Homo sapiens: one gene and its partner. The protein of the gene in region 1 purifies or fractionates together with the protein of each later gene. This does not show direct contact. Each region holds a gene or a part of one and is shown in the gene's direction. Other genes may lie near its edges.

The links. The genes of interacting proteins can lie anywhere in the genome.
Region 2: the proteins of GNAI2 (region 1) and SLC60A2 purify together in Homo sapiens (affinity purification with mass spectrometry; 3 studies listed by BioGRID and IntAct, with this or other methods). This does not show direct contact.

What each region holds. Positions count from the first base shown.
Region 1 is NC_000003.12:50,253,191-50,259,872, forward strand, and holds the end of GNAI2 (guanine nucleotide-binding protein G(i) subunit alpha-2), read left to right. Parts: intron 1-3,001; coding exon 3,002-3,130; intron 3,131-3,532; coding exon 3,533-3,662; intron 3,663-3,746; coding exon 3,747-3,900; intron 3,901-4,309; coding exon 4,310-4,500; 3' UTR 4,501-4,524; intron 4,525-5,177; 3' UTR 5,178-6,172; downstream 6,173-6,682. UniProt on the Homo sapiens protein: Guanine nucleotide-binding proteins (G proteins) are involved as modulators or transducers in various transmembrane signaling systems.
Region 2 is NC_000006.12:111,254,921-111,262,345, forward strand, and holds the start of SLC60A2 (sodium-dependent glucose transporter 1), read left to right. Parts: upstream 1-4,418; 5' UTR 4,419-4,780; coding exon 4,781-4,807; intron 4,808-7,336; coding exon 7,337-7,425. UniProt on the Homo sapiens protein: May function as a sodium-dependent glucose transporter. Potential channels for urea in the inner medulla of kidney.

The sequences.
Region 1 (6,682 bases):
GCTCTGAGGGGCTGGGCAGGGCAGGGCAGGGGCTGGGGGAGGACTAAAGGCTGGACCGGAGGGCCTGAGAACCCCCAGAAGGACACTGCTGGTCTTTGCTTATGAAACCGATGACTGTTAACCAAGGCCTTCCTGTTTTTTGGTTTGGGGGGTGGGTGGGTGTCACGTTACTGAAAGGCCAGGAGGAATGACAGGCAGGTGGCTTATACAGTACATCTCTTCCAGGCCAGTTGAGTCTGATCTGTCTTGACAGTCTTCTAAAGAACATTTGCGGCCGGGCGTGGTGGCTCACGCCTGTAATCCCAGCACTTTGGGAGGCTGAGACAGGCGGGTCGTGAGATCAGGAGATCGAGACCATCCTGGCTAACACGGTGAAACCCCGTCTCTACTAAAAATACAAAAAATTAGCCGGGCGTGGTGGAGGGCGCCTGTAGTCCCAGCTACTCAGGAGGCTGAGGCAGGAGAATGGCGTGAACCTGGGAGGTGGAGCTTGCAGTGAGCGGAGATTGCGCCACTGCACTCTAGCTTGGGTGACAGAGCAAGACTCAGAACATTTGCTGCCACCTGTTCTGTGCCAGGCTTCAAGGACACAGTGATGAGTGGAGCAAAGTCCCCATGCAGTGACAATTTAGGGTGTTAGTGAAAAGGTAGAGGTGGAGTTGGCCCAGAGACAGGATTGCTGAGCTCTGAAGGAGAGTCAGCCAGGGGAGGAGTGGATGAGGGGATTCCAGGCAGGGGCATAGCATGTGCAGCATCTCGGGGTGGTGGGGAGCTGGCTGTGCTTGAACATAGGCTGTGGAGGCTGGCTGGAGGGGGCCACAGGGGAGGAAGTTATCTGGGAGGTGACAGGTGTGTGTGTAGGTCAGAGCCCCTGGACCTCAGCTGTGACCCTCGCTGGCCCTAGGCTGAGGAATTACAAGGGGTCCCAGGAATCCCAGAGGCATGACAAGCCTGCACCCTTTCCACAGTTCTGAACTCCTTCCCTGTGGTATCTGTCATGTACTTGGACTGGTGCAGGGTGCTGAGGACCCCACGGGGAACAGGATAGACAGGCTAATAGCCATTGAGGATGGCTGCAGGGGACATCCACAGGCTTTGGATGGTGTCACCAGATAGGCTGCTGTCCCTGTACTCTAGCCTTCCCCTATCTCTGCTTAAGCCAGTCCCCTCTGACTGGAACACCCTTTTGCTCCTATTGTTCATCCAATCCTGAGCCTACCCATAGGGTGGATTTCAGCAAGGGTGGGTGGGAGGAGGAGGAGGGTCTTGCCTGGCTGTGATTCCTGAGCCCTGTCCAAGCCACATGAACAGCCTCCTCCTACCCTTCTTACATGGCCTGAATGCTCTTGTGAATATGTACCCCCTACAGGAGCTGTGGAGTCACAGCCAAATGCTGTGGGGGCCCCCAGGCCTCACCACTGCCCCTCCCTGAGATCTCTGGCCCAGCCACCAGCGAGCTTGGGGTCAGAGCAGCAGGGACCTTGGTGCCCATGATACTCAAAGGAAGCAGGAATAGAGCCACCTCCAGGCCACCTCCTGCTTCTCCATCATCCTCTTTCTCTATTCTCCAGACATTAGGCACCCACTGTGTGCCCAGCACAGTTTTGGGAGTGAATACAGGCCCTGTTCTCCCAGTCAGGTTTAAGCCTTGATAGCTCCCCCTGGGAATGGGTTGCGGATTGGAACACCACAGGAAGCAGGGCTCCTTCAGCCCCTCTTCGCAGCAACCCTCCAAGTGTGCAGCGAGTCAGGGGGTCCCTGGGGCGAACCCACCTGTTGGGGAAAAGGGAGAGGCTGGTGTGGAATGCACCATGGTACCTCCACATTGAGGACTCTGGCAGTAGGGGGCGGGGCATGGTATGCGGGTCACAGCACATGCGTCATCCTTCCCCATGGCCCTTCCTGTTTTTCTGTTTTGTCCCTGCTACTCTGAGATCATTTCCCTCTGGCCTGGTTTGGCCTGGGTGCTGGTGGGAGCCAAGGGCCAGCCCCAGCAGCCTTGCCCCAGGAATGAAAAGTCAGCTCTGGGCAGCAGCCTGGAGGCCTGGGACCAGCCTCCAGGGCATGGCAGGGATATTGAGGCAGGCAGCAGAGGCAGGCCCTGCAGGGGTAGCCTTGATACTAATTAAGGGAACTGGTAATGAGGAGCCCCTGGGACCCCTGCCAAGCAGGTGTCTGTGCCCTCCCCCTGAGGAACCCAGATTTCATTGGGCGCTGGGCAAAGAGCCCACTGGACCTGGCAGGCCCCAACCTGTCCAGCACCACATCGAGGGACCGCACCCGGCTGCTCTGCGGCTAATGCCGTAATTGCGCCCATTAGCATCCTGAATCCTTCACCGAAGGACTAATTTGCCTCCTCCCACCCTCTTTGCCTATAGCTCCAACATCCTGGATCCTGTCCGAGGCAGGTCTGGCTCAGACCCTGGGTGCTGGAGCTTGGCTGGCTAGCTGTCCACAGAGCTGCACCTCCTCCCATTCCCATTCTACAGGTGGGAGGCCGGGGGCTCTGAGTTCAGGTTTCTTCATTTGAGCAATGAGGTAATGCAGGCAGGGGTTAAAGAAACAAGGGCTGTGCCTAGGCCAGGCGCAGTGGCTCACGCCTGTAATCCCAGCACTCTGGGAGGCCGAGGTGGGCGGATCACCTGAGGTTGAGAGGTCAAGACCATCCTGGCCAACATGGTGAAACCCCGTCTCTACTAAAAATACAAAAATTAGCTGGGCGGCAGGCGCCTGTAGTCCCAGCTACTCAGGAGGCTGAGGCAGGAGAATCGCTTGAACCTGGCAGGCAGAGGTTGCAGTGAGCCAAGATCATGCCACTGCACTCCAGCCTGGCAACAGAGTAACACTCTGTCTCAAAAAAAAAAAAAAAAAAAAAAAAAAAAAGCAAGGGCTGTGCTTGAGAAATGGCATGGGAGGGAAGGGGCCTCTTGCAGCTGGCCCAGGGTCCAGCTAAGGAAGCCCCATGCTGGCCCCCACTGACCCTCCCACCCCCCATCCCCAGCTACCTGAACGACCTGGAGCGTATTGCACAGAGTGACTACATCCCCACACAGCAAGATGTGCTACGGACCCGCGTAAAGACCACGGGGATCGTGGAGACACACTTCACCTTCAAGGACCTACACTTCAAGTGAGCGAGCATGTGGACAGGTGGGAGGGGCAGGACCTGCCAGCCTCTGGGGTAGCAGAGGCAGGGGCTGGTCCAGGATCCCCCAGCCCCACTGAGGTTTTACAAGGCTCATGTGTTCTGGGCAAGCACATCCTCACCACCTAGTGAACCAGCAGTCAGGATCCACGCCACCTCTGCCAGCTGCTCACAGCCTCTGCTGCTCCTGCCTGATGTGGCTGCAGCCTGCCTGCTGTCCAAGCTCCTGGCCCAGAACCAGGGGTGAAGTGGGCAAGTGTGGATGATTCCAGAAGGTAGCTGCCCTACTCTGGGCAGGCCTCTGTCCTCAGTCAGCCAACCTGAGAAATGGGGTAGAAAGCCTCCCCCAGGCTCCCTTCCTGGAACTAAGGTGATCTATATCTGCAGGATGTTTGATGTGGGTGGTCAGCGGTCTGAGCGGAAGAAGTGGATCCACTGCTTTGAGGGCGTCACAGCCATCATCTTCTGCGTAGCCTTGAGCGCCTATGACTTGGTGCTAGCTGAGGACGAGGAGATGGTGAGAGGATGAGAGAATGCTGCGGGTGGGGGCAGCGGGCTTGGGGAGTGGTGGCTAGCGTTGACCTTGCTATTCTACCCCCAGAACCGCATGCATGAGAGCATGAAGCTATTCGATAGCATCTGCAACAACAAGTGGTTCACAGACACGTCCATCATCCTCTTCCTCAACAAGAAGGACCTGTTTGAGGAGAAGATCACACACAGTCCCCTGACCATCTGCTTCCCTGAGTACACAGGTGTGGGGACTGTGGGGATAGGGCCTCCAGAGGGTTGCTTCTTGTCCCAAGTAGCCTATGGTGACCAGGTGGCCCTCAGGCGCCCCCCACTGGACAGAAGTGTAACCTTGGAACACTGGCAGGGGCTGGTGCCTCACTTAGGCTTGTATAGTTGTGTGTGCACACATGAAGCCCTTAACACACTCAAGCATGTACCCCTGAACATGTGTACATGGGCATCCTCCTTCACACAGTGGGGTACCCCTTTGCACATCTGGCATGTATGGGCAGCCACAAACATTGTCATATTATGCACATGCATGCACAGGTTGTATGCCTGGCCGTCCACACGCACAGACCCTTGCTGCACACGTAGGATGCGGCCTGCCTGCCACACATGCAGCACAAGTCTTCATTTTCTCTCCCCCAGGGGCCAACAAATATGATGAGGCAGCCAGCTACATCCAGAGTAAGTTTGAGGACCTGAATAAGCGCAAAGACACCAAGGAGATCTACACGCACTTCACGTGCGCCACCGACACCAAGAACGTGCAGTTCGTGTTTGACGCCGTCACCGATGTCATCATCAAGAACAACCTGAAGGACTGCGGCCTCTTCTGAGGGGCAGCGGGGCCTGGCGGGATGGTGAGCCAGAGGGGCTGTGGCAGGGTGCTGGGGAAGAACTAAGCGGGCCTGGAGCCCCAGCAGGGGGTTCTGGGGGTGGGTAGGGGGGTGAACCTGGAGGGGGAGGGGCAATAGGTGACCAGGGGACAAGGGAGGAGAAGGCCCAGGGTGTGAATCAGGAGGTCAAGTGAGTGAGGTGCAGGGCATGGAGGAGGTCATACAAGCAGGCCTGGCCCAGTGGTCCAGACAGAAGGGCCTGGCCTTGCCCTGGGACAGAACCAGAGGCCATCCTGATGTTCCCTGGAGAAATCTCACCTCCTCACCCACCAGGCCATTGGCCCAGCCTGCCGGAAGCTGCATGCCAGCGGAGCCCAGCCCTGCTGCCCACTACCACCAGCTCCATGTGCACCTCCAGCTCTTGCCCTCTGACTTGTCTGAGCGTCCCGGGCTTAGGCTGGCCCCACTGGCCCTGGTGGAGGTGGGGATGACTCTCCCAGTGCCACAGACTCCCCTCCCCCACGTAACCCAGCAACAGAAACTGGCTCCTGGGCGGCAACTGTGTCCCTGGTAACAAATGGGTAGGAAAAATAGAGAAGGGTCATTGTCTAGGGAGGCGGGAGAGAGGCACGCCCTGGCTGCTTCCCGATCCATGCTCTGCTTTCCCCCACCTCCAGGGCCACCGCCGACTTTGTACCCCCCAACCCCTGAGGAAGATGGGGGCAAGAAGATCACGCTCCCCGCCTGTTCCCCCGCCGCTTTTCTCCTCTTTCCTCTCTTTGTTCTCAGCTCCCCCTGTCCCCTCAGCTCCAGACGTAGGGGAGGGGTTGCCACAGGCCTCCCTGTTTGAAGCCTGCCCTTGTCTGAGATGCTGGTAATGGCCATGGTACCCCCTTCTGGGCATCTGTTCTGGTTTTTAACCATTGTCTTGTTCTGTGATGAGGGGAGGGGGGCACATGCTGAGTCTCCCAAGGCTGCGTCTGGAGGGGCCCCTGCTTCTCCAGCCTGGACCCCCAGCTTTGCCCAACACCAGCCCCTGCCCCAGCCCAAGTCCAAATGTTTACAGGGAGCCTCCTGCCCAGTCCCCCAACCCCAGCCGCTCGGAGGCCCCAAAGGAAAAAGCACAAGAAGCGTGAGACGCCACCATTCCTGGAAACCACAGTCCACCTGCTCATTCTCGTAGCTTTTTAAAAAAATGAAAGTAAAGGAAAAAAAAAAAACTGCAAATCTAGAAAACTTTTTAGAGAAAAACTATTTAAAACTGTCAGATCCTGACCAGCAAGCCCCCCCCCAGCCCCCCTTCCAAGTGACTCCGTGCCTTGAGTGTGTCTGCGTGTTTACACCCGTCCCTCTGCTGGCCGCCCCCGTGCGAGCGGCACCCCTGCCCTGCCCTCCACAGAATTGGGTTCCAAGGGCTGTTCCAGACAACTGCCAACGTCACTGAGGGCCCTGCCCCAGCGGCCCTGGCCCCAGGCTCTATTAACCTAAAATGTAGCTCCCTAGCGCTAACCTAGGAACCGCCGCTGCCTGCTGGGGGGCCACGCCCCTCATGCCCTTGTCCCAGGCCCGGGGCCTTCAGCGTTGAACACTTCCTTGCTTTTTTCACATGTTTTATGGAATTGTTCACCTGGTTTGAAATAATAAAATGTAGAAAGAAAAAAAATACCGAGAACTGATGGGTATTCTCTCCCAGGGGCAGAGGCCTGGGCTAAGGTGTGCCAAGGTGATGGTGGTCCTAACCTCAGTCCTCAACCTGAGTCAGGGCCCTGACTCAGCTTTCCGGGCCGTCCTGGAGCCCCACGCTCTGAGCTTCATTTCTCCCACCTGGACTAGGCAGCATACATGTGGGGCCCGTGTGTCCCCGCCCTTCCAGTACTCTGCAGCCTTGGGTCTCGGGCAGCTGGGCAGGCTTCTAAGGGAGCTGTTGTAAGGTGCTCTTCCACACCTGGAGCAGGAGGGGTGGCCGGCCTCTCTAGCGCGGAAGGAGAAAGTGACTTCCGACTTAGGTACCAAGGCCTGAGAGTGTCCGTTGCCAAGGCCACACAGCCAGGTGGGCCGCATGCAGTCCTGGCTTGACTAAAAAGGCCAGTAGGGGCCTTAAGACATATTCAGAAAGTTCCCTGCCCCAGAGGGCCGCCGCCAAACCTGAAGGGTAGTGACAGGTGGCCATACTACCATGTGA
Region 2 (7,425 bases), on another chromosome or scaffold:
GCCAGGCATGAGGCACATGCCTGTAGTCCCAGCTACTGGGAGGCTGAGGCCGGAGGATTGATTGAGCCCCGGAGGTCGAGGCTGCAGTAAGCTATGATCATGTCACTGCACTCCAGCCTGGGTGACTGATCAAGACTGTCAAAAAAAAAAAAAAAAAAAAGAGAGAGGGAGAGAAATGTAGGGGTGGGTTGCCCCTCCACACCTGTGGGTGTTTCTCGTAAGGTGGAACGAGAGACTTAAGAAAGAAAAAGACACAGAGACAATGTATAGAGAAAGAAATAAGGGGACCCGGGGAACCAGCGTTCAGCATTATGGAGGATCCCGCCAGCCTCTGAGTTCCCTTAGTATTTATTGATCATTCGTGGGTGTTTCTCCGAGAGGGGGATGTGTCAGGGTCACAAGACAATTGTCGGGAGAGGGTCAGCAGACAAACACGTGAACAAAGGTCTTTGCATCGTAGACAATGTAAAGGATTAAGTGCTGTGCTTTTAGATATGCATACACATAAACATCTCAATGCTTTACAAAGCAGTATTGCTGCCCGCAGTTCCCACCTCCAGCCCTAAGGCGGTTTTTCCCTATCTCAGTAGACGGAACATACAATCGGGTTTTATACCGAGACATTCCATTGCCCAGGGACAGGCAGGAGACAGATGCCTTCCTCTTGTCTCAACTGCAAGAGGCATGCCTTCCTCTTATACTAATCCTCCTCAGCACAGACCCTTTACGGGTGTCGGGCTGGGGTCTTTCCCTTCCCACGAGGCCATATTTCAGACTATCACATGGGGAGAAACCTTGGACAATACCTGGCTTTCCTAGGCAGAGGTCCCTGCGGCCTTCCGCAGTTTTTGTGTCCCTGGGTACTTGAGATTAGGGAGTGGTGATGACTCTCAAGGAGCGTGCTGCCTTCAAGCATCTGTTTAACAAAGCACATCTTGCACCGACCTTAATCCATTTAACTCTGAGTTGACACAGCACATGTTTCAGAGAGCACGGGGTTGGGGGTAAGGTTATAGATTAACAGAATCTCAAGGCAGAAGAATTTTTCTTAGTACAGAACAAAATGGAGTCTCCTATGTCTACTTCTTTCTACACAGACACAGTAACAATCTGATCTCTCTTGCTTTTCCCCACAGAGAAAGAAGAAAGGAAGAAAGAATAAAGAAAGAAAGAAGAAAATTTTAAGTTTATACCTTTTAAAAAAGGAAACTTAAAAATCAGTAAGTTTTAATTTTTAATAAGATAAATAATTTATTCTATCAAACATCACCAATGTCAGATCATTTCAACATTATTTCTAACTTTTCAAAGTACATAGCATAAACCATAAAAGTTGTCTAACTGAAATTAAATCTTCGTGAGAGATAGTTTTAATAGACTGGGTTTTTAGCAGTGAAGTTAAAGAATGATAGTTTAGTATACAGAAAGAAACAGTTATGGTGACACTTAGTTCTTCATGATGCACTGTAAGCACAAATTGGACATCACATGATAAGTAAAAAGGATGGTCCTTCTGGCAAATAAAAATTAAATAGGTCCTCACAGTGATATGCAGTCTCCAAACATGATCTGTCTAATTTCTCTCTCTCACCCAAAGTAAAAAGTTAAGTTGAAAGATTAAAACCTGCCTTCTTGTTACTATTTCACAAATACACCCAGATAGTACCAGATTAGTGACTAAAATCCAGATATTTTCCTTTTAGATAAATTAAGCCATATACATTGTAAAATACTTATTTTTTAAGAGAATCAATAAAGCTATATTTATTTTCAGTAGAAAATGTGGCTCATAGACACTTTATTTCTCTGAAATTGCCTCTCAAGAAAAAACTTGATCCTCACTATTGATCTAAGAGAAATCTGCATGAAGCAATGCTGTAGTTTATGCTTTTTTTTTTTTTTTTTTTTTTCTCAAAGGTGGTGGGTGACCTCTGGAGGCAACTGGAAAAAATATACTGCTGCTTTCAAGAGTGAAGTGGGGAATGAAGAATCAGAAAGTAGATCTTTCCATTTAGAGAAGGCTTTTTCTTTTTTTTTTTTTTACATTTAATCAGGGTGAATTAAAATATTTAATTTAAAAATGGCTTTACTGAACCTCAATTCAGTTAGGTAATTAATCAATTCAGTTAGGTAATAGCTACTAAGTATGTAATACAATGTTAGGGGAGAGACATATAACATCCATAGTTTCAATCTCATTGAGTTTATAATCTACTAAGGAACTGAAGATAAGTGCTAAAAGAACTGTAACACGAGGTAAAACCTGTGACAAGATTTAGGAGCAGCACAACTATATAGTTGTGAAACTAAACCAGCCTCAAGGCTGAAAGGCAGGTGAGAAAAGACTACCTACCAAAGTAGGTTTTGTTTGTTTGTTTGTTTGTTTGTTTGTTTTAACATGGATTCTCCAAAGATAGGTAGAAAAGTCCTGGTTTGGCGTCATTAGTCTACTTCAGCCCCTCTCTCACTGATTACGACTGAAAGACTCATGACAAAATACAAATGGCAACTACCTGCCGCCTCTGAAAAGTAAATAAAGAATTGAGGTAGGGAGTCAAAACTTAGAAACCTGCAAGGGGATGAATTTCCTGGCTTTTTTCTTCTTTTCTTGTGGTTTGTCCTGAGGAGAGACCCCAGCTGGGAACTGTTGGGTGGCATGGGTAGCTAAAACTCGAATAGAAATCTCATCTTTCTGTGCTGAAAGGAAATAACGGTTAGCCCAGAACTCTATTTTCAGTGAAAATATTTTCAGGAATCAAAGTGAAATAAAGACATTCTCATATGAAGGAATGCCAGCTGACCTGCTCTAAAATAAATGCTTGGCGGGCCGGGCGCGGTGGCCCACGCCTGTAATCCCAGCACTTTGGGAGGCCGAGGCGGTCGGATCATGAGGTCAGGAGTTCGAGACCAGCCTGACCAACATGGTGAAACCCCGTCTCTACTAAATAAAAAAATTAGCCGTGCGTGGTGGCACGCGCCTGTAATCCCGGCTACTCAGGAGGCTGACGCAGGAGAATCGCTTGAACCTAGGAGGCAGAGGTTGCAGTGAGCCGAGATCGCACCATTGCACTCCAGCCTGGGCGACAGAGCGAGATTCCGTCTCAAATAAATAAATAAATAAATAAATAAATAAATAAATAAATAAATAAAAAAGAAATGCTTGGCGGGGCATGGTGGCTCATACCTGTAATCTCAGCACTTTGGAAGGCCAAAGGCAGGCGAATCACTTGAGGTCAGGAGTTCGAGACCAGCCTGGCCGACATGGTGAAAACTCGTCTCTACCAAAAAGCGCCACAACACTCCAGCCCGGGCGACATAGGCTCTGTCTCAAAAAAGAAAACAAACAAACAAAAAAAAAAGTGGGGGTGCGGGTGGGGGGAAGACTTAATGACTAAACGAATAAGTCTGGAGAGACGGGTTGCAAGGGATGATGAGACTAAGGTTTGTAGTCTGGGAGCCTAAGTGGATGAAAGTTGGAAGAATCAGGTGGAAAAGAACATTTCAAATAGACCACAAAGAAAAGTATATAACATTTTGAGGCTGTGGTACGCTTTGTTAAAGAGCAAAAGGAAAACAATTCCTCAAATCAGGGGGGAGGGATAGCATTAGGAGATATACCTAATGTTAAATGACGAGTTAATGGGTGCAGCACACCAACATGGCACATGTATACATATGTAACTAACCTGCACGTTGTGCACATGTACCCTAAAACTTAAAGTATATAAAAAAAATTCCTCAAATCGATGCCACGCTCCACTTCTTTACAACGATGGAATTATTTCAGGAATTGGAATTATTTCAGGAATTGTGTTTGAAACCACAGCTTTGGATCCCGATTTCTTTCTTGAGCTACTGTTACACTGTTTATATACGGCCACTAATTCGATGACTGAGCTTGGGCAGATTGTTAATTATTTTCTATGACTTAATCTTTCTATCTGTACAACGGGGATAACGTGGAATTTGGAGTGTTGTGAGGGTTGAGATAATATACGTGATAACTTACACAATGACGTTCAACAAATACTTGTGGAGTGAAAGATGCGCGATTCATTGACAGATCTCAGGGATTTCAGAAAGCTGTATAAGGACCAGCTCTTCAGGCTCCCTTCGCTCCCCAGGAGACCGGGGAGCCGGCGCGAGGCGCTACAGTGTAATTCTTGGCCCCTTTTCCTCATAATGGTTTGGCCGCATTTTTACCTCTTGATTTCCCTGGTCCCAGGCTGCAACTTCAGCTCGCTCCGCCATGGGGCGCACGTCCGCCAGCCTCTGTGAGCTCAGCTAAGTATGATGCCTAGGCTAGAGAGCTACGTCCGGTCTCCTAGGCAACCATATCAACTTCCGGCTTGAGGCACGATAGCGGTTGGCGAGAGGCCACATTTCCGCCACGTGACCCGCGCATGCGCCTGCTTGCTGGAGAGCGAGCGTCTTTTGCCACGAACACCTGCGGCGTGCCGAAGTTCCTCTTCTCTGCCCCGGTTCCGGGCGGTCCGCTGGGAGGTGGCGCCCGGAGGGACACCCGTGCCTGGGGTCGGGGCCAGTGCTCTTCTCGGAGCTCCAGAAGTTCTGCTGAGAAGCGCGGCGGCAGCAAGACGACTTCTCCGGAGCCGCCGAGCTGGAGTTAGAGGTGGAGCTCCGTGGGGCCGGGCCCCCGGCTGCGGGGCAGCGGCTCCTGCAGGCGGAGGCCCCGGCGGAGAATGAGCCGGAGCCGGAGGTGGTGGTGGTCTCCTGGCAGAGCGGTGGGACCGGGAGCAAGCTGCGGTGGTTCACCACCTTGATGCTGTGTGCCTCCTTCCTGGGGCTGGTGAGAGCCGGGGCTGCAACACTCCCAGGCCGGGGCGTTCGAGTCTTGCCTTCGCCACTTGCAAACTGACCTTGGGCGCGTTACCTAATCTGACTGGGCCTCAGTTTCATCATCTAGAAAATGGGCACAATTCTAATCTTGGAGGAAATAGATTTTCTGAATACGTCTTTCAGCTCCAGCAAGCTTTTTTTTTTTTTTTTTTTGACGGAGTCTCGCTCTGTTGCCCAGGCTGGAGTGCAGTGGTGCGATCTCGGCTCACTGCAACCTCTGCCCCCAGGGTTCAAGCGATTCTCCTGCGTCAGCCTCCCGAGTAGCTGGGATTACAGGCGCCTGCCACTAAGCCCGGCTAATTTTTGTATTTTTAGTAGAGACGGGGCTTCGCCATGTTGGCCAGGCTGGTTTCAAACTCCTGACCTCAGGTGATCCGCCCACCTCGGCCTCCCAAAGTATTGGGATTACCGGCGTGAGCCACGGCGCCCGGCCCGGCAAGCCTTCCTACGTCTCCTTCGTCGGATGGGAAGGTTGCAAGAGGGGTTCACCAGGTCTTTGGCCGCTGCTCTCCGCACCCACCCACTCAACCCCCAAATTATTACACAGAAAAACTACTTTTCTGGAATTTCTTCCTGGTGATCTGACCAAATTCAGCCAACCGCTTAATTTTGCAGATAAGGAAATAGGCCCGGAGGGGAAAGTGACTTTCTGGATCACACAGCTGGTTAAGTGATAGAGCCAGAAATATGTCTTTTACTCTGCCCACCATCCTATTTATTAATAAAACCAACCTTTAGATTCTTAAATGTTTTTCTTGGAGCAAAGGGCAAGCCTAGAGGCGCCTTTTGCCAAACCCCTGGGTCGCCACTCAATTCACTTTTCGGAAACCTCCTCCTTATCACTTGATAATTATGATCCTGGGGGAGTTGAGAGGATGAGTCCTCCCAAGAGTCATGTGTGGTCACTTACCATCTCAGGGACTCTGAGCCACAGTTGTTTCTTAGAGTATTTTGATTGGGGGCGGTGGGGAGGGGTGAAGAAAGAAATCACTTCAGACTTTTGGTGAGTCGTCACTGACTTGTCCGGTCCTGTTGTAAATCCTTTGAAGACATGAACTAATTTGATTAGATTCTGTGCTCAGGCTTCTCTCGAAGTACGAGGTGCTTGCTGTGCACCTGGGCCCATAGTGGTCCGTGGTCTTGGACTGTTACGAGTTGGGCAGGGGGCGCACCCCATGCATTTAGAGCAGAGCAGGGCAATTAGAATCAGTTATTCTGGAAATGTAGACTGATTGGAAACATTTTTTTCTTTAAATGTCCAATGAATTTCCTCTGAAAGTCAATTGTAATCCTTACCTCTTGCTGACACTGCATTGAGTAAAGTTTTATTGTTAAAGTCATTCTGTACTTGGGCGTGTAATATTTTTTAAGCAACCTTTACTGACTAATTCTGATGGCGTGGAAGAAAAGTGTAGATTTAGAAACATTTAAATTGTTTATCTCCTGTATGTTTTATATGTATAGTTCAGGGGAAGGACTCCATGTGCATCCAGAAATATTGCTGTTTAACAACATAAAAAACAGGAATCATATTTTGATGTTTTGATCAAGGTTTTGACGTTTTCCAGTGGCTCAGTCAGAACTCACTACAGTCTCGACCTCAGGGCTTAAGCGATCCTTCCATCTCAGCCTCCCTAGTAACTGGGACTACAGGCATGCGCCACCACGCCTGGCTGATTTTTTTCATTTTTATTTTTGTAGAGATGGGGTTGCCTAGGTTGATCTCAAAACCCTGAGCTCAAGCAGTCCTACCATCTCTCCCTTCCAGATTGCTGGGATTACAGGTGTAAGCAACCACACCTGACTTAATTTAATTAATTAATTTATTCTTTCTGAGACAGAGTCTCGCTCTGTCGCCCAGGCTGGAGTGCAATGGTGCAGTCTCGGCTCACTGCAACCTCCGCATCCCGTGTTCAAGCGATTCTCCTGCCTCAGCCTCCCGAGTAGCTGGGACTACAGGCGCCCACCACCATGCCCAGCTAATTTTTGTATTTTTAGTAGAGATGGGGTTTCACTGTGTTGGCCACGCTGGTCTCAAACTCCTGACCTCGTGATCCGCCTGCTTCGGCCTCCCAAAGTGCTGAGATTACAGGCGTGAGCTACTGTGCCCGGCCAATTTAAATTTTTAATACCCAAATTCTTATTTGTGCATGTAATATATTTCAAAATGTACGAAACCATTTCAAAAATAGTTTTAATATTACATTTTATTAATACAGAATAGTCTTTTAAAGGTATTGTTCAGAAAGGAAACAGGATTGCAACAAAAAAATAATTTTTTAAAAACTGAGAGGTGTCAAAACAAAAAAAAAATAAGAGTTTTAGTCAAAACTAAAAAAACAGTAGTCTAATTCCCTACATTACATTGTAAATCCCAGACCCTCCGCCCCCCTTTTTTTTTATAGTGGAAGAAACTACCACATAGTTAGACATTATTTTAATGATTATAAGTAAAAACTTTTGTCTTTTTAAATTTTAGGGATTGAGTGTTGCTATAGTGGGACCCACGTTTCAAGATTTGGCAACAAACGTGAACCGAAATATCAGTAGTCTGTCTTTCATTTTTGT